Regions from separate parts of the Homo sapiens genome. Here region 1 is linked to region 2. Evidence: fine-mapped expression QTL. A gene starts in region 2. The other region holds a variant in brackets. All regions are shown on one strand. Distances are between the middles of the regions.

Evidence for each region. PIP is the estimated chance that this variant, and not a neighbour inherited with it, causes the effect.
Region 1: its variant is the best candidate, but not a certain one, in a credible set for the expression of PPY in macrophages after interferon gamma (Alasoo 2018, PIP 0.59).

Annotation. Positions count from the first base shown.
Region 1 is chr17:43,964,892-43,975,563 of GRCh38, forward strand. It overlaps a transcript of PYY not described here. Among named protein-coding and RNA genes, the nearest start is that of PYY, 16 kb to the left of the region's middle. The variant C/CT (reference allele first, on the strand shown) is at 4,858.
Region 2 is chr17:43,937,235-43,947,906 of GRCh38, forward strand. PPY (pancreatic polypeptide) reads right to left here and starts at 5,242. Exons shown (of 4, transcript NM_002722.5): 1 at 5,187-5,242; 2 at 4,230-4,420; 3 at 3,909-3,980; 4 at 3,570-3,718. The coding sequence starts at 4,420. The coding sequence ends at 3,694. It overlaps LINC01976 (long intergenic non-protein coding RNA 1976), which reads left to right and starts at 1,027. Exons shown (of 2, transcript NR_136406.1): 1 at 1,027-1,163; 2 at 1,327-1,728. RefSeq lists an enhancer at 813-1,313.

The DNA of each region.
Region 1 (10,672 bases), 28 kb after region 2:
CAAATGCTATTCTAAAATAAATGGGATTTTTAATGCTACCATCTCCTGTGTCCTTGAGAACAAGAATTTACAATGTGGAAGAAAGAGGACACAGATGTCATATAGAAGAGGTTAAATAAACACCCGTCAGTCCTGACTTTGATTTGGAAATCTCTGTTTACAGAAAAGGGCTAGAAACAATGTTGAAACCAATAGCAATGAACATCCTTAGCATCCAGACTAGTCTTTTTTTTCTTTCCTTTTCTTTTCTCTTTTTTTTTCTTCCAGGTTTATTCTGGAATAATGGACAAATAAAAATTGTATATATGGCCAGGCATAGTGGCTCACACCTGTAATCCCAGCACTTTGGGAAGCCGAGGAGGGTGGATCACTTGAGGTCAGGAGTTCAAGACCAGCATGGCCAACATGGTGAAACCCCATCTCTACTAAAAATACAAAAATTAGCTGAGCATGGTGGCAGGTGCCTATAATCCCAGCTACTCAGGAGGCGGAGACAGCAGAATCATTTGAACCCAGGAAGCAGAGGTTGCAGTGAGCCGAGATCATGCCATTGCACTCCAGCCTGGGCGACGGAGTGAGACTCCGTATCAAAAAAAAAAAAAAATTGTATATATTTGGCCAGGCATGGTGACTCACACCTGTAATCTCAGCACTTTGGGAGGCCAAGGCAGGCGGATCACTTGAGGTCAGGAGTTCGAGACCAGCCTGGCCAACATGGTGAAACCCCGTCTGTACCCAAAATACAAAGTTGCCAGGCATGGTGGTGTGTGCCTGTAATCCCAGCTACTTGGAAGGTTGAGACAGGAAAATTCCTTGAACCCGGGAGGCGGAGGTTTCAGTGAGCCGAGATCATGCCACCACACTCCAGCCTGGGCAACAGAGTGAGAATCCATCTCACAAAAAAAAAAAAAAAAAAAAAAAAAAAAGAGAGAGAAACAAGTAAAATTATATTTTTTTCTAGCCATTGTAAGTACAAAACAAAAAATGATTTTTTCCTGGCATTTCCTGTTTCTGCCTATTTACATTGGTGCTCCCCAAGATGAGATGCTTGGCTCTCTTTTCTTTTTTCTTCTTCACTGTAGGGTTGTCATCTACCCCCAAGATTTTAATCACCCCCAAAATCCCTGTAATTTGCTCCTCTGCCGAGTTCCCTATCCACATAGTCCACTGTTTCTAGACATATCCCCATGGATATCTCTCAGTCAGCTTAAAGTCAATGTAGCCTAAATAGCAAAAATAATAAATCAATCTTTCTTAAGTGCCTACACTGTGCCAAGTACTATGCCAGGTACGTCTCACATATTATTTTAGTCTTCACAACACATAATGTACCATCATTAGCCTGGTTTTACAGAATATGAAACTGACACAGAGAGAGGTCAAGTCAGTAGCTCACCCTTATCTTAGCTTGTTATCTGAATTCCCAAATCTCCAGGGACCTCCAGCTCCATGAATGGTATCTCCATCTCTTCAGGTGACTGAGTTGGAAATCTTGACTTCACTCCACCAATGACCTGAGTCATTCTTAGAAAGTCTGAAGAAGGAGCATGCAGTTCTGAGGGTGGCAGCAGGTCCAGGAATTGGAATGTGACCACAGGGGAATTCCTCATAAAGGGCTGAACTTGCCTGAATGAGTTTCCTCTGGAATACAAGGAAGTCATATGAAATCGCAGTTTAGGCAGTGCATTCAAGAGTACATGGCAGACATCGTTTCGTGTTAATAACTATATCCTGCCCTTTACCCCAACACTCCCAATCCTCCTTATCTGCCCTGTTTATTCCCCAGCACTTAGCACTTTCTAGCATTCTATGTAATTGACTTATTTGTATGCTTGTTGTCTGACTACTAGAATGGAGGCTCCATGAGAGCAGAGGTTTTTGTCTGTTTCTTCACTGATATATCCCCAGTGACTAGAATAATGTGTGATACATGGTGGTGGCTCAAGTACACTTGCTGAATGAATGGATCCACATCCTCACTGTCCATGGCTGCATGGTTTACACACAGGCACATACATAAGCATGTATACACACATACACACACATGCACATACATGCATATGTCTTGAAGACAGAAGGCTATTCCTATCCCACCACAGTCCAGATCTTCATCAAAGAAGAAAGCAAAAGGCCAGACGCGGTGGCTCACACCTCTAATCCTAGCACTTTGGGAGGCCAAGGTGGGTGGATCACCTGAGGTCTGGAGTTCGAGACCAGCCTGGCCAACATGGTGAAAATCTGTCTCTACTAAAAATACAAAAATTAGCTGGGCGTGGTGGCACGTGCCTATAATCCCAGCTACTCGGGAGGCTGAGGCAGGAGAATCACCAGAACCTGGGAGGCGGAGGCTGCAATGAGCTGAGATCACACCACTGCACTCCAGCCTGGATGACAGAGTGAGACTCTGTCTAAAAAAAGAAGAAGAAGAAGAAAGCAATTCCCTAAACACTATGCACTCTCCCTTCACACACTGTGCAGGTTAGAGGGAGTGAGATATCAGGGCCTGTCCACAGCAGGCGAGCCCCATACCTCACCCCACAGAGCTGTCACATTCAACTCCCTCTGAAGCTGTGGAACTTGCAGCTCAGACCACAAACTCTGGGGCTAGGATGACTGGGTTGGCCACTGACTAGCTGTGTGATCTTAGGAAAATTACTTAACCTCTAAGGGCCTCAGTTTTGTCATCGGCCACATGTATATAACAATAGCATCTACTTCATATGGTTGTGATGGTTTAAAAAGCTATTAGGTTCCAGATGAGATGGAGTAAGCAGCCTCCACCCTGTCTCTCCTGCTGAATGCTGCTGTGAAACATGGACAGACACGCACGGGGCAGCTCTCTGAAGAGTGTGAAAGTAAACACAGCGGGGAAACGGGGGAAGAAAGCCAGAATTCAACGTTCCACTGAGCTGAAATGAGTTTCTCATTTTTCCTCTGATATTCCCCAGCCTCGATACAAGACAGCGCCAAATCCAGAATGGGCACTGGGGCTACGAGAGGGATCAACAGGAGAAATGCTCGTTCTGCCTCGAGGAGTGGAAAGGGAAGGTCTAGCACTGAGAGAGAGAAAAGGAACTCCATTTTTCTCTTCTTCATTCTCCCGTGCCCCAGCCCCGAGACAATTCCATGGGAGTAGCAGTGGTGACAGTAGTATCAGTGGCTGCAGGGTCCACAGACAACCAAATCTTTCCCTCTCCGATCAAGAGTTGTGGGCCAGGGGCTGTGGATCATGTCTGTAATCCCAGCACTATGGGAGGCCGAGGTGGATCACTTGCGGGCAGGAGTAAGACACCAGCCTGGGCGTGTATGTGTGTGTGTTTATTTTTAAAAACAGTTGTAGTCCCAAGAAGGAGAACCCCTATAGCTTTCTTCTCTCTGTGTCCTCCTGCCACCTGGCCCTGAACACGGACACAATCATAGGAAGTGTGCAGTAGAGCGGGATAACTAAAGAAGAAATAACACTGATTTTACACAATCTCTTCCAGAAAATAGAACAAGAGAAAATACTCCTTCGTTCATTTTATGAGGGCAACATTACCCTGAGACCAAAATGAAACAAAGATATTGTAAGAAAAAAAAACTACAGATCAATATCTCTCATGGACATATATGTAAAAATCTTCAACAAAATATTAGCTGGCCAGGCGCGGTGGCTCATGCCTACAATCCCAGCATTTTGGGAGACTGAGGCAGATGGATCACTTGAGGTCAGGAGTTCGAGAGCAGCCTGGCCAATGTGGTGAAACTCTGTCTCTACTAAAAATACAAAAATTAGCCAGGTGTGGTAGTGTGCACCTGTGGTCCCAGCTACTCGGGAGGCTGAGGCAGGAGAATTGCTTGAACCCAGGAGGCAGACGTTGCAGTGAGCCAAGATTGTGCCACTGCACTCCAGCCTGGGCAGCAGAGTGTGACTCCATCTCTAAATAAATAAATAAGCCGAGCTCAGTGGCTCAAGCCTGTAATCCCAGCACTTTGGGAGGCCAAGGCGGGTGGATCGCCTGAGGTCAGGAGTTTGAGATCAGCTTGACCAATATGGTGAAACCCTGTCTCTACTAAAAATATAAAAATTAGCCAGGCATGGGGGCATGCGCCTGTAGTCCCAGCTACTCAGGTGGCTGAGACAGGAAAATGCCTTGAACCTGGGAGGCAGAGGCTGCAGTGAGCCAAGATCGTGCCACTGCACTCCAGTCTGGGCGATAGGGTGTGACTGCATCTCAAAAAGAAAAAAATATTAGACAACTGAACTCAGGAATATATAACAAAAAAAAATGTATATGTTACAATCAGGTGGGATTTATCCTGACAATGCAAGGCTGGTTCAATATTCAAAAATCAATCACTTGGCCAGGTGCAGTGGCTCACACCTGTAATCCCAGCACTTTGGGAGGCCGAGGCGGGTGGATCACTTGAGGTCAGGAGTTCTAGACCAGCCTAATCAACATGGTGAAACCCTGTCTCTACTAAAAATACAAAAATTAGCTGGGCCGTGGTGGCGGGCACCTGTAATCCCAGCTACTCCAGAGGCTGAGGCAGAAGAATCGCTTGAACCCAGGAGCAGAGGTTGCAGTAAGCCAAGATCTCACTACTGCACTCCAGCCTGGGTGATAGAGCAAGACTCTGTCTCAAAAAAAAAAAAAAAAAAAGCAAATGCTCATATTGATTGATAAAGAAAAACCATTTGACAAAAATTCAAAATCCACTCACAATTAAAAAACAATACTCTTAGGCCAGGCTGGGTATCTCACGCCTATAATTCCAATGCCTTGGGAGGCTAAGTCAAGAGGTAGGTATTGCTTGAAGCCAGGAGTTCAAGACCAGCCTGGGCAACATAGTAAGACCCTGTCTCTACAAAAAAAA[C/CT]TTTTTTTTTTTTGAGATGGAGTCTCGCTCTGTCACCCAGACTGGAGTGCAGTGGCGCCATCTCAGCTCACTGCAACCTCTGCCTCCTGGGTTCAAGCAATTCTCTGCCTCAGCCTCCCGAGTAGCTGGGATTATAGGTGCCCGCCACCGCACCCGGCTAATTTTTTGTATTTTTAGTAGAGATGGGATTTCACCATATTGTCCAGGATGGTCTTGAACTCCTGACCTCATGATACATCTGCCACGGCCTCCCAAAGTGCTGGGAATACAGACATGAGCCACCACGCCCAGCCAAAAGTTTTTTTAATTTGTTGGGCATGGTGGTGCCTGTAGTCTCAGCTACTGGGGAGGCTGAAGTGGGGGAATCGCTTAAACCCAGGAGTGTGAGGTTACCGTGAGCCATGATCACACCACTGTACTCTGCCTGGATAAAAAAACAAGACCCTGTCTCTTAAAAAAAAAAAAAAAAAAAAAAAAAGCTGGGGAAGGTGGCTCATGCCTGTAATCCCAGCACTTTGAGTGGCTGAGGCTGGAGGATCATTTGAGGCCAGGAGTTCAAGATCAGCCTGGGCAACATGAAAAAACCCCATCTCTACTAAAAATACAAAAATTCCTGGGCGTGGTGGCACATGCCTGTAATCCCAGCTACTCAAGAGGCTGAGGCATGGGAATTGCTTGAATCCAGGAGGCAGAGGTTGCAGTGAGCTGAGATTGCACCATTGCACTCCAGCCTAAACGACAGAAGGAGACCCTGTCTAAAAAAAAAAAAAAGACAGTGAGTGTAGTACAGGTGAAATGACAGATAGCTAGGTCAATGGAACAGAATAGACAGTACAGAAATAGACCCATGCAAATATGGCAAATTGATTTTTGACCAAAGTGCAAAGACAACTGAATGGAGAAAGGACTCCTAGAACCGCCAGCATAGTCAGGACACAGAAGGACTGTATCACTCCGAAGGACCCCCTAGTACTATCCCTGTGTGGTCAGGCCTCTCAGCCCTAATGTTTGCACCCACTACCATCACTATAGTTCTATCTTTTAGGGAATATCACACAACTGGAATAATACAGTATGTGACTTATTGAGACAGGCTTTGTCCACTCCTAATGCCCTTGAGATGACTCCAATTTGTTCTGTGTATCAATAGTCCATTCCTTTTTCTTGCTGAATAGTAAATATGCCAATATATTAATGTGGTTTGTTTACTCAGTTACCCATTGAAAGACATTAGGGCTGTTTCCATTTTGGATCAACTATGAATAAAGCGGCTATAAACATTCATGTGGGCATATTCATCTCTCTAGGATAAATACCCTGAAGAGAGTTTTCTGGGTCATATGTAATTGTGTGCTTAATTTTAGAAAAAGTGCAAAATGTTTTCCAGGATGGCTGTACCATTTTGCATTCCCACCATCAATGGACAAGAGTTCTAATTGCTCTGCACCCTCTCGGCACTTCGGATTGTCAATATTTTTTATATTACCCATTCTAATGTGTGGATAGTGCAGCTCATCATGGTTTTAACTTGCATTTTCCGGCCAAGCGTGGTGGCTCACACCTGTAATCCCAGCACTTTGGGAGGCCAAGGTGGGCAGATCACGTGAGATCCTGAGTTCAAGACCAGCCTGGCCAGTATGGTGAAACCCCATCTCTACTAAAAATATAAAAATTGGCCGGGCATGGTGACACAAGTCTGTAATCCCAGCTACTCAGTAGGCTGAGGCAAGAGAATCACTTGAACCTGGGAGGTGTAGGTTGCAGTGAGCCAAGATCATGCCACCACACTCCAGCCTGGGTGACAGAGCAAGGCTCTGTCTCAAAAAAAAAAAAAAAAATTGCATCTTTCTGTTGTCTAATGATGTCAAACATCTATTCATGTGCTTATCTGCCATCTTTATATCCTCCTTGGTGCAGTGTCTGTTCATGTGGTTTTTTTTTTTTTAAGTGGGTTGTTGGTTTTCTTATTGTTGAGTTTGAAGGGTTCTTTATATATTCTGGATACAAGTCTTTTGCTGAATATGTGATTTGCAACTATTTTCTTTCAGTCCGTAGCTGGTTTTTTCGTTTTCTTAACCCTGTCTTTCATAGAACAAAAGTTTTTATTTATGATGAAGTCCAATTTATCAATTGTTCTCTTTTGTGACTCATTCTTTTGGGTGTCCAGTCTAAGAACTATTTGCCTAAACTGAGGTCATGAAGATTTTCCCCTACTTTTCTCTAAAGTTTTATTATTTTACATTGCTTTCCCTTTTGAGCTAATTTTTGTATAAGGTATGAGGTTTCGGTTGAAATTCTCTTTTTTGTGTATGAATGTTTATTGTTCAGACACCATTATTGGGTCTAGGAATCTATACATGTGTTAAAGCTCATAAAGCTGTACACCAACAAAATGGTCAATTTTATTTTATGTTACTTTAGTTATTTATTTATTTTATTTTATTTTATTTATTTATTTATTTATTTATTTATTTATTTATTGAGAGAGGGAGTCTCATTTTGTCACCCAGGCTGGAGTGCAGTGGCGTGATCTTGGCCTGCTGCAACCTCCACCTCCCAGGTTCAAGTAATCTCCTGTCTTAGCCTCCTGAATAGCTAGGACTACAGCTGTGTGTCACCACGCCGGGCTAATTTTGTATTTTTTTTAGTAGAGATGGGATTTCACCATGTTGGGCCAGGCTGGTCTCAAACTCCTGACCTCAGGTGATCTGCCTGCCTCAGCCTCCCAAAGCACTGGGATTACAGGCGTGAGCCGCCACACCCGGCCAACTTTATGTTACTTTAAAAAACATTTTTTTTTTTGAGACAGGATCTCAATCACCGAGGCTGGAATGCAGTGGCACAGTCATAGCTCACTGTAACCTTGAACTCGTGAGCTCAAACGATCTTCCCACCTCAGCCTTCCTAGTTGCTAGGCAAACAGGCATGCACCACTATACCCGGCTAATTTGTATTAGTATTTATTTTTGGTTTTGTTTTGTTTTTTTGAGACAGAGTCTCACTCTGTCGCTAGGCTGGGGTGCAGTGGCGTGATCTCGGTTCACCGCAACCTCCGCCTCCTGAGTTCAAGCGATTCTCCTGCCTCAGCCTCCCAGGTAGCTGGGACTACAGGCGTGCCACCAAGCCCACCTAATTTTTGTATTTTTAGTAGAGACGGTGTTTCACCATGTTGGCCAGGATGGTCTTGACCTCTTGACCTCGTGATCCGCCCGCCTCAGCCTCCCAAAGTGCCGGGATTACAGGCGTGAGCCACCGCACCCAGCCTATTTTTGTTGAGACACGATCTCACTATGTTGCCCAGGCTGGTCTCAAACTCCTGGCCTCAAGTGATCCTCCTGCTTCAGCCTCCCAAAGTGCTGGATTACAGATGTGGGCCACAGCACTCTGCCAAAAAAGTCATTTAAAAAAAAAAAGTTATTTCTAAAGTGCTTAGAACAGAACCTGAAAGTAAGTTTTTAAAAAGTGTTTGTCACTTAAAGATAAATTCCTGGCTTCCTAGGCAAGCCACCCTCCTACTGTAAGCACCCATGGGTGGCTACTGACAGATCAGGAGAGTCTCTGGGGTTTGTGCCTGGTGTGGGATCACATCCTAGGTCGTTGTGGAGGAAAAGTTAAATATTAAATCTGAACTCAATTGAACATGGACACAAACAATGGTCACCAAGTACCAGAAGGGGCTGTGTGAGCCCCTTGAGGCATTCATCCAGCGCTGTTTTGGAGAAATCTCTATTTCAATCTATTCCTATACGTTACTGAAAAACAAAGCTGGGCGTGGTTGCTCACGTCTGTAATCCCAGCACTTTGGGAGGCCAAGGTGGGTGGATCACCTGAAGTCCAGGAGTTCGAGATCAGCCTGGCCAACTTGGTGAAACCCCGTCTCTACTAAAAATACAAAAATTAGCCAGGCATGGTGGCGGCCACCTGTAATCCCAGCTGTTTGGGAGGCTGAGGCAGGAGAATCACTTGAACCGGGAAGGCAGAGATTGCAGTGAGCCAAGATCGTGCCTCTGCACTCCAGCCTGGGTGACAAAGCACGACTCCGTCTCAAAAAATAAATAAATAAGTATATAAGAAAAACAACAGACAATCGCAAAAACAAGTTGACCTTTTTGTGTTCCTTGAGCCTGGTCACGAAGGGCCTTCGTGCCTGGACCTCATGCCAAACAACTCGTTACAAAAGAGCTAGGGTCCTAGATTGTGCCAAAGCTTCATGAGACCTCTTCCTTGTCTGTGCACGGACAAGTGGCCGACTCTGGAGCCGACCCAGGCTGTTGCTTCCCAGTCTGGTGGTGAATCCTCCATAGTCTGGTGAGTATGAATATCTTTTCCCTTCTCCCCTTCCCATTGCAATTTGCTTATTATATCAATCTGCTTATTATTATATCATTTGCTTATTATATCTACATTGCCATTTACATGGGATAAAGGTTGTTTACCCTTAAAGGTATCGTGGGTGTGTCTTTTCTTCCCTCGCGCATTTCCCGCACATAACATTTGTGTCCCCGGATGCTACTGTGCAAGCAGAAGAGAAGCAACAGGCAGATTCAGACCGTCCTGCACAAACTGCCCCCTTTACTAGTAGAGGGTGGGGTGGAAGGGCAGGCAGTGGGGGATGGTTCTAGGTGAACACGCAGGCACCTTTGGAGGGAGGTGTCCCATGGTTGCTCAAAGCCCCACTCCAGAATCCGACAAAACCTGCTTCAAACCCTGTGTCAATTGTTCACCCAGTCTCTGTGGTGTGAGCAAATCATTTCATCTCTGAGCTTTGGTTTTGTCATCTGTGAAAAATAGGTCATAAAAGTGCCCGTAAAGGGTTAGGAGGATTGAATGAAATAATGGCTGTCAGAAGCTCAGGACTGTTGCCAGCTCAATGTAAGCACCCCATAACGTGCTACATTTTCTTGCTATTGTTTGCAATAAAGAGACTGGCAGGATGCGCCCTCAGTGTGAACAGTGGAGTTATCTTTTGTTGCGGGAATTCGGGTCCTAACATTGTATTCTAAAAATGTTCAGAGTTACAGCAAATTGAAAAAGGCTGTTCAGCAAGTGGTGCTGGTGAGGATTAGGATGCTTTTTCTTTCTTTTGGCTTAGCTATAGTTTATATTTTTCTACAGCAGACATATATTATTTCGATAATTAGAAATAAATATGGGGGGGAGGATAGGGAAAAAAAAGTTCAACAGAGTAGGACAAAGGACAGAGCCCTGTGGTGCAAAGCCGCCATCTCCCGCTTTCAGTCATGGATTGCCTTTAGAAGCAGCCTCTCATTTAATTAGAAATTCTTCCAGCCGTTGAGCCATTTCGCCCACACATCACCCCATGTCTGCAGGATGTCAGGAGAGATTGTGCTGTGTGCCTTGCTGAAGTCCAGACATGAGGAGTTGCGGCACTCCTATCCCCGACCAAATAATTCCATCAACGGGGAAAATCAGATCAACCCAGAACCATCTGTTCTTAATGGTTTCTGAACATGTCTTTCCTTTCCACATACTTACAAACCTAGGGGTGGTGGAAAGGGTATGGATTCCGGAGTCAGATGTTCTGGGTTTGAATCCCACTCGCATTTCTTAGCTGTGTGACTTTGAGAGAGTTTGCTTGGCCTCTCTGAGCCTCACTGTAAAAAGAGAATAGTAAAGCTCGTGTCACAGGCTTCTTTTGGCAATTAAACAGTGGGTAGGCTGAGCACAGTGGCTCTTACCTGTAATCCTAGCACTTTGAGAGGCCAAGTTGGGCGGATTGCTTGAGCCCAGGAGTTCAAGAGCAGCCTGGGCAACATAGCGAAATCTTGTCCTACTAAAAATAAAAATAAAATAA
Region 2 (10,672 bases):
TTATTTATTTATTTTTTTAAATCGTAGAGACGGGGCTCTCTGTCTTTTGCCCAAGCTAGTCTTGAACTCATGGGCTCAAGCAGTCCTCCCACCTCGGCCTCCCAAAGTGCTGGGATTACAGGCGTGAGCCACCGCGCCCGGCCAGGTTGCAATTATAAATAGGGGTGTCAGGGTAGGATCCATTTAAAAGGTGGATTTTGAGCTAATGCTTACAAGGGGAGACAGAGCTGGCCATGAGGATGTCTGGAGGAAGAGTCTTCCAGGCAGAGAACAGAGTGACCGTCATTTTGCGGGAACAGCAGGGAGAAAGGAGGGGGATAAGCAAGGAGTTTGCGGGAGAGAGGGCAGTGAGGTTAGGGAGCTGACCAATGGCTTTATGCCGTCCTCATGCGTCCACCTTAGGGTGTGTCTCCTCGTTCGTTTTTTTTTTTTTTTTTTTCTTTTTCTTTTTTTTTTTTTTCTTTTTTTGAGACGAAGTCTGGCTCTGTTGGGCAGGGTGGAGTACAGTGGCGCAATCTCGGCTCACTAAAACCTCCACCTCCCGGGTTCCAGCAATTATCCTGCCTCAGCCCCCAGAGTAGCTGGGATTACAGGCGCCCACCACCACGCCCGGCTAATTTTTGTATTTTTAGTAGAGACGGGGTTTCGCCATGTTGGCCAGGCTGATCTTGAACGCCTGACCTCAGGTTATCCGCCCGCCTCGGCTTCCCAAAGTGCTGGGATTACAGGCGTGAGCCACCGCGCCTCGATGCTCTGCCTGCATCACCGGGCATGTCCAGGTGTGTACCATTCCTCCGAGCACCAGGATGTCCCTTAAGGCGTCCGTGCTCTGGTGTGTGTCCCAGAAATAGACACGACCCTCGGTCTGAGCGCCCCTGCACCCCAGCCTGCCCACCGCGCGGAACACCTGCAAGCTCCGGTCCGGGTGCCGCGCTGACCACAGCCCCGGCATCACGTGACCTCCCGCGGCTCTGTCTGCCCCGCCCCCTCCAGACGCCTGCTCTGCGCTGCGCATTCGCTCTGGCCATAGCGGGCCTCGTGTCGCTGCTGATGCAGCCCGAGGGCGCCCTCGGCGAGGAGCTGCAAGTGCCGCAGCCCAGGGCCGCCAGTTGGCTGAACTTAGGCTCCATCAAGAAGTACTTGGGGAAGCTCTTCAACAGCAGGTGGGCCGGCGGAGGGTGTGAGGAAGGGAGGGAGGGAGGGAGGAAAGCGGGGGGTGGGGGGGGCGCGGGGGGGGGACACGGACGCCACCAGGCACCCCCACGCACATCGCGGCCTGAGCTGGGCTCGGGGAGCGGCCTCATGACTGCAAAGACTTGTTCCCAGCCCGAAGAAATCTAAAAACCACAAGAAAACTGCGAACGCCACGGACACCTCCCCATCAAAAGCCACGAAACCCCCACCATGGACCACCACGAACCCCCAGTGGCTGAACACCTCGGAACCCCGACCACCGACCTCCTCCCGGGGCCCCAGGTAGGACAGCCTGGATGCTGGGCACCGAGCCAGGGGCCTCGGGGCTGGGGGCAGCTTGGGTGCTAGCGAGAGGAAGTTCCTGGGGGCGGGCATGCGGGGAGACACAGCACCCCTGTGGGGGGGGCTTCTTTCTCCAGGCTGGGCCTTGGCCTCCAGACGCCTCTCTGCCCACCAACCCCTTTGTATTGAGAGGGGCCTCGACCCCTCCTCATCCCCTCAGTGAAAACAATAAAGACAAATTTTTGTTGCTTCAGTGACTTCTGTGGGCCTGCGGGCAGGGAGGGACCAGTCCATGGAACGGGAAGTGGGACCCTGTAGTTTCTGCTGTGAGAGAAAAAGACCTCAGCTGTTGGGGGTCCTCCCCTGCCTCCCCTGGCAACCCATCCACCTTCCCCCACTCCACCCACACATGGCCTTGTGGGTCTGGCCCTCCACCCCGTGGTAGAGACACAGATACGGGTCCTGGAGAAGACACTTATTGCCCCTGTAGTCCTGCACAGACAGCACCAGTGTGGGGGGCTCTAACCCAGAGGGAGAGCAGAGGTGAGAGAAGAAACCTCAAAGAAGGGGCTTCAGCTAGACACACCCCAACTCCCACCTGGCTCAAGTTTCTACCAAACAGCCCAGACTCCTCTCCCCATTCACCGCGCATCCCCTTAAGCTGCCAGAGAAAATGCTGGGACTTCAGGCTCCCTCTCCCAGACTCAAACCGTTCTTTTGCGAAACCATCTCTCTATCCAGACATCTTTGGATTTAAGAATCAACCTGAGGCTGGGCACAGTGGCTCACACCTGTAATCCCAGCATTTTGGGAGGCCGAGGTGAGCAGATCGCTGGAGCCCAGGAGTTTAAGACCATGCTGGGCAACATAGCAAGACCCTGTCTCTAAAAAATAAAAAAATTTGCTGGGTGTGGTGGCATGTGCCTGTAGTTCCAGCTGTTTGGGAGGCTGAGGCAGGAGGATCGCTTGAGCCCAGGAGGTCAAAGCTATGGTGAGCTGTGATCATGCCACTGTACTCCAGCCTGGGTGACAGAGCAAGATCCTGTCTCCAAAAACAAACAAAAAATCAATCTGAGCCAAGCAGCTGCATCCTCTAGAAGCTCTTTGCCTTTTAGGACCTGTTTCTACTTCCAGGTCATTTGCACACACCAGATGGAGTAGGACTTGAGGGGAAACACAATTGTGTGTCATTTCCATTTCTGTGCAAGGTGCTGAGCCCAGGAAAGTGGACCCCTCATCCTCCAAACCCATAACCCCATCCCTTGAGACCAAGCATGTGGGGGAGGCAGGAGAAGCCTTTCTAGGAACCAGAAACATTCTAGTTCCCTCACTTCTCCCCTTTACACATGCGCGTACACACGCATGCACACGCGCACTGTCCCCACCTATTCAGGGTGCCTGAGAAGGGCCAGGAAAAGATGGGTTCTCTGGGAATCTGGGAAGTCCTCCCTGGGGCAGGATCCAGGTCCTTGTCCTCCCAGGGCTGGAGTGTACAATCTACAGATTCAACTCATGGTGGCTGGAACTCTCAGCTAATCTAGCCTCCTCCCCTTCCACAGCAGCTTGAATACCTCCTGTGCCCAGGACTTCACTACCTCTCAGGGCAGCCCATTCTCTCCAAATTTCTGGACGGCAGCTCAGGCCCCTGGATGCAGCCATGACTGCCATAGCACCAGAATCGTTCTTCCAGGCTGGGCTGTGCCCCTGCCCCCATGCCAAGGGTGCTTTCGTATAAATTTTGGTGCTTCTGCTGCCTAGGCTGCAGTAAGGCACTGGTGAGGGGTGCACTTGGGGAAGGGTTGTCATCAGGCTGTGTCGGGAAGGTCTATGGGTACTGAACTGGGAAGATTCAAGACTGCCACTTCACAGACTTGCTGAAGGACCATCTGCTCAGAGGAGTCCCTGCCTTCCTCTGGCCACCACTTTTCCCTCTGCGAAGGGGAGAGGATGAGTTGAGTGACTCTGATGACCCCCGCCAACGTTCTGGATGATCCCCTTTTCCTCTGCCCTGCCCTGCCCTCCCCTTTCTCTCCCATGCATTTGGCACTTCCTGCTGCCCCCACCAGGGGTCCACAGAGACACAGGACAGGCTGTGGCTTTGACTTGCTTTATTGAGCCTGTGTGGGAGCAGGGAGCAAGCTTTGGCCAGAGCCAAGGGTGCAGAGGGGAGAGCTGGGCTGGCGCTGCTCATGGAGTCGTAGGAGACAGAAGGTGGCATTATAAGTCCAGCGGGCTGAGCTCCCTGTGAGGACAGGGCAGAACATGGCAGTGTAGGGGGTAGGCCTCGTGCCCTCAGGAGGCCTCAGGCTGGCCCTGGGCTCCTGTTCTCCCTCTTCCACCCCCCACTACACCTTTCCAAGCCCTGATTCAGTCCCACCACCCCCATTTCAGCTCCAGGGAGCTGGACAGACAGGGCAGGGAGTCAAACTCACCTGGGGACAGCAGCATGCGGGGACCCCCACTCCGAGAAGGCCAGCGTGTCCTCTTTGTGTCTTTTCCCATACCTGGGAGGGAAGAGGCAGCAGGGGCAAGCACTGTGCCCAGGTGCCAGCCCACCTGTTTCATATCTGCCTGTAGGCACCATCTTGCCCAGGGCACATTGGTCTAGGCCTGTTGAGCACAGATGCCCTGTTTTCCCAAGAGCAGGCCTGGAAGGGGCTGGGGCTGGGGCTGGGGATAGGGTGTGGCCAGGAATGTGGAGTGGGCCCAGGGTCCCAGGGGCTGGGATCTCTCTCCCCAACTGTGGCACACACCTAGGCCTGGTCAGCATGTTGATGTATCTACGGAGATCAGCTGCATACTGGGCCATCTGCTCTGGTGTGGCATTGTCCCCTGGGTACACTGGCTCCAGTGGGGCTCCCTGGGCACCCAGCAGTGGCTGTAGTAACAGAGCCACGCAGGTGGACAGGAGCAGCAGGGAGAGGCAGAGGCGTGCGGCAGCCATCTGAGGAGCAAGCAGAGGGGAGGTGGAGAGCCCGGGCTGCAGATTTTCCCGTGCCCAGGAAGCAGGGCCCAACTATCCAGCCCCTTAGCCCATCATCCATTTCTCCAAGCCTGGGGACAAGGGGGCAGAGCAAAGGGCCACTCCAAGCTGGCCACTCCACCTCCTAGACACTGCTCTGAAGGCACGGACAGCCTGTCCTGTGAGCAGCCCAGCAAGCCAGGGCCTCGCAAGTTAGAAAAGTATAGCAGAGAAAATGGGGATGTGAGTCCTGGAGACACGGGACTCATGACATCCAGGGCCTCATGGCTCCCAGGAGGCAGCAGCTAGTGGGAATAAGGGCATGCCAGGTCACCCACAGGGTGGGGGACACAGAATGAACTCGGGAAGCCAAGGACAGAAATCCATGGCCTTGTGGGTCTGGCCCTCCACCCTGCGATAGAGACACAGATATCGGTCCTGGAGAAGACGCTACTGTCCATGTCGTCCTGCACAGACCAGCAAAGGCACTCACACAGGGACCCCAGTCACTCACAAGGTCACAGTCACACATTCCAGTTCACAGCCATGCACACGAGTGTGCACACACACGTGCAGTCAGCAGACGGCTCTTCTAGCGTGACAGGTCTGTCCAGATGCAGAAAGCAAGACCCAAGCAGGACCTTAGGCCTCCCAAGGCCCCTGGCCCTGCAAAGCACCACCTCCTCTCCATCCCAGGCCCCAGCCTGGGGGAGGCCCCCAGAGCCCCAGGCAGGCTGAGCCCACTTACCCGGAGTCCAGAGTAAATGGGCACTAGACCAAGCGAGCACCTGCCTCAGGCCGGATGGGCCCCTGCCCTCGGCTGGGCCGCTTTATAGTCCTCAGCCCCCCAGAGTCCCCGCCTCCTGTCAGCCTCTCTCACTCCGAAGCCCTCACCCCTCCTCTCACTGTCTCCTCATACTGGCAACGCCAGTACTGAGGCCAGAGACGGGAGGGGGACAGGGCAGTTCTGTGGGTGCCAGACCAGCAGCATAACAGATAAAACTGGACCACAGTAAAAGTCTCCTGTGGGCCCCCATCACTGACACCCCTTCCCTTTGGGCACCAGAGCAGGCTTGGTTCAAGAAAGATGGGGTTCTGGGACTCGAGAGTGACTGAAAGGTTTTGGTCACAGGCCTTGGAACTAGCTCTCCTGCCTCCCAAAGATCAACCCAAATCATCCAACGGATTCTCTTGGGGCAGAAGATTGAGGCTGCAGCTGGAAGACTGAGGCTACAGCCAGAGCCTCCAGGCTGAAGAATGGAAACTCAGGCCATCCTCTGCAGCTTGCAACTAGAACAAGGTGGGAAGAGGGAAGGGGCCTCAGGTCCTCAGGCAAGGTGGAAAGGAGTGGGGTGCCAGGCTTGGAGAAACCCATTTGGTGGGTGCATAGGATGCAGAATGAGAACTCATGTGCCTGGGTTCAGGGGAAATGTTGAGGGGGGTGCCGGTTTCCAGTATCCATTTCCCTCCCCATCTCAGAGCCCCCATTCCAGGGAAGTGCTAAAAACCAGCTTCATTTGTAAAGCCTCACATTTTCCAAAGTGCTGCCAGCTCAGTCACCTCACTAAATCCCCACAACAACCCATTTTACAGATTCAGGATCTGAAATCTGCTCAGAGATGTCAAATCACTGGCCCCAAACCCCACAGCCAGTCAGACCCCAAAATTTAACTCCAAACCTGGACTGTTTTTTTTCCTAAGTGGGGCCGTCAAAGTATTGTTATAATTTCCCACTTTTTGGCTGAGAAACCTGAGGCTCACAGAGGTAAAGACGCTTGCTCAAGATCTCATAGCTACCGAGGTTCCGAATTCTGGCTTAGATTCTCAACCCCACTAATCCATCCCCACCAGAAGCCCCTGAGTCTCCCCTGCCCAGCGTCTCTTCCCAACCCCCAGTCTCCCTCCCCTGCTTAGGCCAAGGAGTGGTAACTGGCTGTGTCTGAATGACACGGTGACACCAAGTACGGAGCTAAGGACTTATGACTGCTGACGTTCTGCTGTCCCAGATCAGTATACCAAGAAGTTGGGAGATGGGGGGGACTGTTGGGGAAGAGGGGACTGGAGGTGAAACTCCAGGGATCTGGCAGGGTGGGCTTAGAGTCAGACAGACCTGGGTCCAAATCCTGGCTCTGCATTGGCTGGCTCTGTGAGCCTGGGAAAGTAATTTCTTTAGCCTCTCTGAGCTTCACTTTTCCTCTCAGTAAAATAGGCTCATCACACCCATCTGAAGATAGGGAGAATAAAGGAAGGCTCAGCAAACATCAGTGTTCTGCCTTGACCCTCTCAATTTTGATTTTGGTTAACAAGAAGAGCAATAATGCTTCACCAGACAACTTACATTCCACAAAGCAAATACGAAAGTCATTCTGTCTCAGCAAGCCCGGGCCTTTCTCTGGACTGAGGTTTTCCACTTGCAAAACAAGGGTGTGAATTGGTGGCTGGTCTCAGCCTGGCCTTGGGTTTGGCGGGTAGAGGTTGCAGCTCGCCGCCAGAGGGCGCCAGGCTCCAACCCTAGTTAAAAGGATCTGAGCTCCCACAGGACCATGGCCTTGGAGGGACCTGTTCTGGCTGCTACTCATGTGGGGACCCAGCCCCACCCAACAGACAATGGATCTAGGGATTGACTCAGATGCCAGGGCCACTTACAGTTCTATCCTGTCGCAGAGGTAAACCTAAGTGCCTAAGAAATAACAGGCACTCCACAAATGTCAACCAAACCGTAGCTTTCATTTTTCTCCTTTGCAAACAACAGATTCCTCTTCTGGGTCCTCTCAGGGATGTGGTGACAATCCAGGAGGAAGTGGTAGTAGATGTGCTTTCTACACTGCATGGCCATGTGTATTAGTTCCTTCTCATACTGCTTTGAAAAGAACTGCCCGAGGCCAGGCGCAGTGGCTCACGCCTGTAATCCCAGCACTTTGGGAGGCTGAGGCAGGCGGATCACCTGAGGTCAGGAGTTCAAGACCAGCCTGGCCAACATGGTGAAACCCCATCACTACTAAAAATACAAAAATTAGCCGGGCGTGGTAGCGCATGCCTGTAATCCCAGCTACTTGGGAGGCTGAGGCAGGAGAATCACTTGAACCAGGGAGGCAGAGGTTGCAGTGAACCGAGATCGTGCCGCTACACTCCAGCCTGGGCTGTAACAGAGTGAGACACCATCTCAAAAAACACACAAAAAACAAAAAGAACTACCTGAAATTGGGTCATTTATAAAGGAAAGAGGTTTAATTGACTCACAGTTCAGCATGGCTGGGGAGGCCTCAGGAAACTTAAAATCATGGTGGAAGGCGTAGGGGAAACAAGGCACCTTTCTCACAAGGCGGCAGGAAGGAGAAGTGCTGATCAAAGGGGAGAAGAGCAACTTATAAAATCATCAGCTCTCGTGATGACTCACTCACTATCACGAGAACAGCATGGGGAAAACTGCCCCCATGATTCAATGACCTCCACCTGGTCTCTCCCTTCGCATGAGGACTACGGGGATTACAATTCAAGATGAGATTTGGTGGGGATGCAAAGCCTAACTACATCACTATGTCTAGAACACAGCAATGGTTCTCACTCATCTTGATGTGTTCCTGTCAGAGGCGTTTGAACCACAGCGACTCCATCTTGAACAAGGGCTGGGTAAAATGAGGCTGCAACCTGCTGGGCTGCATTCCCAGGAGGTTAGACATTTTTAGTCACAGGACAAGATAGGAGGCCGGCACAAGATACGGGTCACAAGACCCTGCTGATAGAATGAGATAAAGAAGCTGGTAAGAACACGCAAAAACCAAGAGGGTGATGAGCATGACCGCTGATTGCCCTCACTGATTTTTCTTTTTTTCTTTTTCAGCAGAGATGAGGTTTCACCATGTTGGCAAGGCTGGTCTCAAACTCCTGACCTCAAATGATCTGCCCCCATCGGCTTCCCAAAGTGCTGGGATTACAGGCATGAGTCACCGTGCCTGGCCTCGCTGATCATTATACACTAATTATAATGCATTAGCATGCTAAGAGATGCTCCCACCAGCATCAGACAGTTTACAAATGCCATGGCAACATCTGGAAGTTACCCTCCATGGTCTAAAAGGAGGAGGAACCCTCAGTTCTGGGAAATCCCCACCCCTTTTCTGGAAAACTCATGAATAATCCACCCCTTGTTTATTAGTATATGATCAAGACATAACCATAAAAATAGCCAAACGGCAGCCCTGGGGGCTGCTCTGCCTATGGAGTAGCCATAGGCTTTTATTTATTGATTGATTTTGTAGCGATGGAGGCTCACTTTTTTGCCCAAGCTCAAACAATCCTCCTGCCTTGGCCTCCCAAAATGCTGAGATTACAGGCATGAGCTACCGCACCTGGCCCTTGTTTCCTTACTTATCTAATAAACTTACTTTCACTCTACTCTGCGGAATCACCCTGAATTCTTTCTTGCATGAGCCCCAAGAACCCTCTTTTGGGGTCTGGGTCAGGACCTGTTTTCAGTAACATTCCCACAGTGCTTGCCACAGAGCCCTGCTTAAAGAAAGCACCAGTTCCTGGCCTGCAGACCCACTAAATGAAGATGATAGTGGTACCTCTTCCCCTGCCCAACACCACGCCCTCTGGCACAAGGTGGATGGCCACTGGCAGTGATGGGGATGGAGTAAGTGCTATGAGACTAGGAGAGGAACACCCCAGGAACACCTGAGGTCACAGAGTGAATGAAGGCAGGTAAAGGAGCAAAGGGAATGGGGGCCCCCACATACGTGACCCCAGGGCAGCAGCTTGGCCTGCACCAAGTCCTCCATCACACACACTCCCCCGCCCCACCCCCGCATCCTGGCTGTCTAACCACAATCCCTGCTGCCTTCAGTTAATCAACCAATGAGTGGTCATTCATTGCACATCTGTTCTGGGCCTCATGGGGGCAGCGGGAGGTGATGAAGAAGCAAGGGTTCTACAAAGAGGTCAAAGCTACGTGAGGAGCCGGGGAATGGCTTGCTTTTTTTTTTTTTTTTTTTTTTTTTTAGACGGGCTCTCACTCTGTCACCCAGGCTGGAGTGCAGTGGCATGATCATTGCTCACTACAGCGATGTTTCATGGGCTCAAGGGATCCTGCCATCTCAGCTTCCCAAGGAGCTGGGACCAAAAGTGTGTGCCACCATGGCCTGCTATTTTTTTTTTTTATTTCTTGGAGAGATGGGCTCAAGCATCTACACACCTCAGCCTCCTAAAGTGCTGGGATTATAGCTGTGAGCCGTTGCACCTGGCCAGGATGGCTTTTTTTGAAAGTGAGGACACGAAAGTTCAGAAAGGGGAAGAAACTGGCTGTGGTCCTGCAGCAAGCTGGCAGCCGTCCCTCACCTAGCCCTGCGCTTCAGAACCTTACTCACAGATCATCTTACAAATGCCTCTTTGCTACTTTGTGAGGGAGGCAGGAATTACTCTTCACCCTTATCAGATGAGAAAACCAAGGCCCAGTGAGGTAGCTGAGGCTGTCTAAGGTTACATGGGAGTCAGGAAGGGTCAAGACTAAACCCAGGTCCACGTGGTTCCAGCCTGGCTTCATCCCTGTTTGCAGACCCCCCAATCCCAACCCGCCACTGGCCAGAGCCTGGCCCAGCTCTTAGGCCAATGTCTTATTCCAAAATTAAATGGCAGCAGCAGAGGAAGGGATAGATTGGGGGGTAGCTGCCCCCAGATGCCAGGACCTATGCCCTGGAGAAACCCTTGGGCTGGGGATAGCTGTGACATGTACACACATACCTTGGGCCCCTTGTCTCACCCACTCTGAGCCAACTCAGGACCCAGTGGGGGCTCACTCCACTAATTTGGAGCCTGGGCTCTGCCTCCACTTCTCTCTGCCCTGGGAACTCCATCTGCCTCCAGGGCCTCCTGAAGACACGCAGGGGAGAGTTCAGTATTTCTCCCTTCCTGTCTCCAGTGTCTGCAACAGCAAATCCTATCATTGCCGCTCCAAATTTTTCTCAAAGAGGAAGCCTTCTTTCTTGCTGAAATAGAAACTAAACCAAGCTACATAATACAGTTTGAGAACAGCCTGGCCAACGTGATGAAACCCCATCTGTACTGAAAATACAAAAAATTAGCCGGGCATGGTGGTAGGTGCCTGTAATCCCAGCTACTTGGGAGACTGAGGCAGGAGAATTGCTTGAACCTGGGAGGCAGATGTTGCAGTGAGCCGAGATGGCACCATTGCACTCCAGCCTGGGTGACAAGAGCAAGACTCCGTGTCAAAAAAAA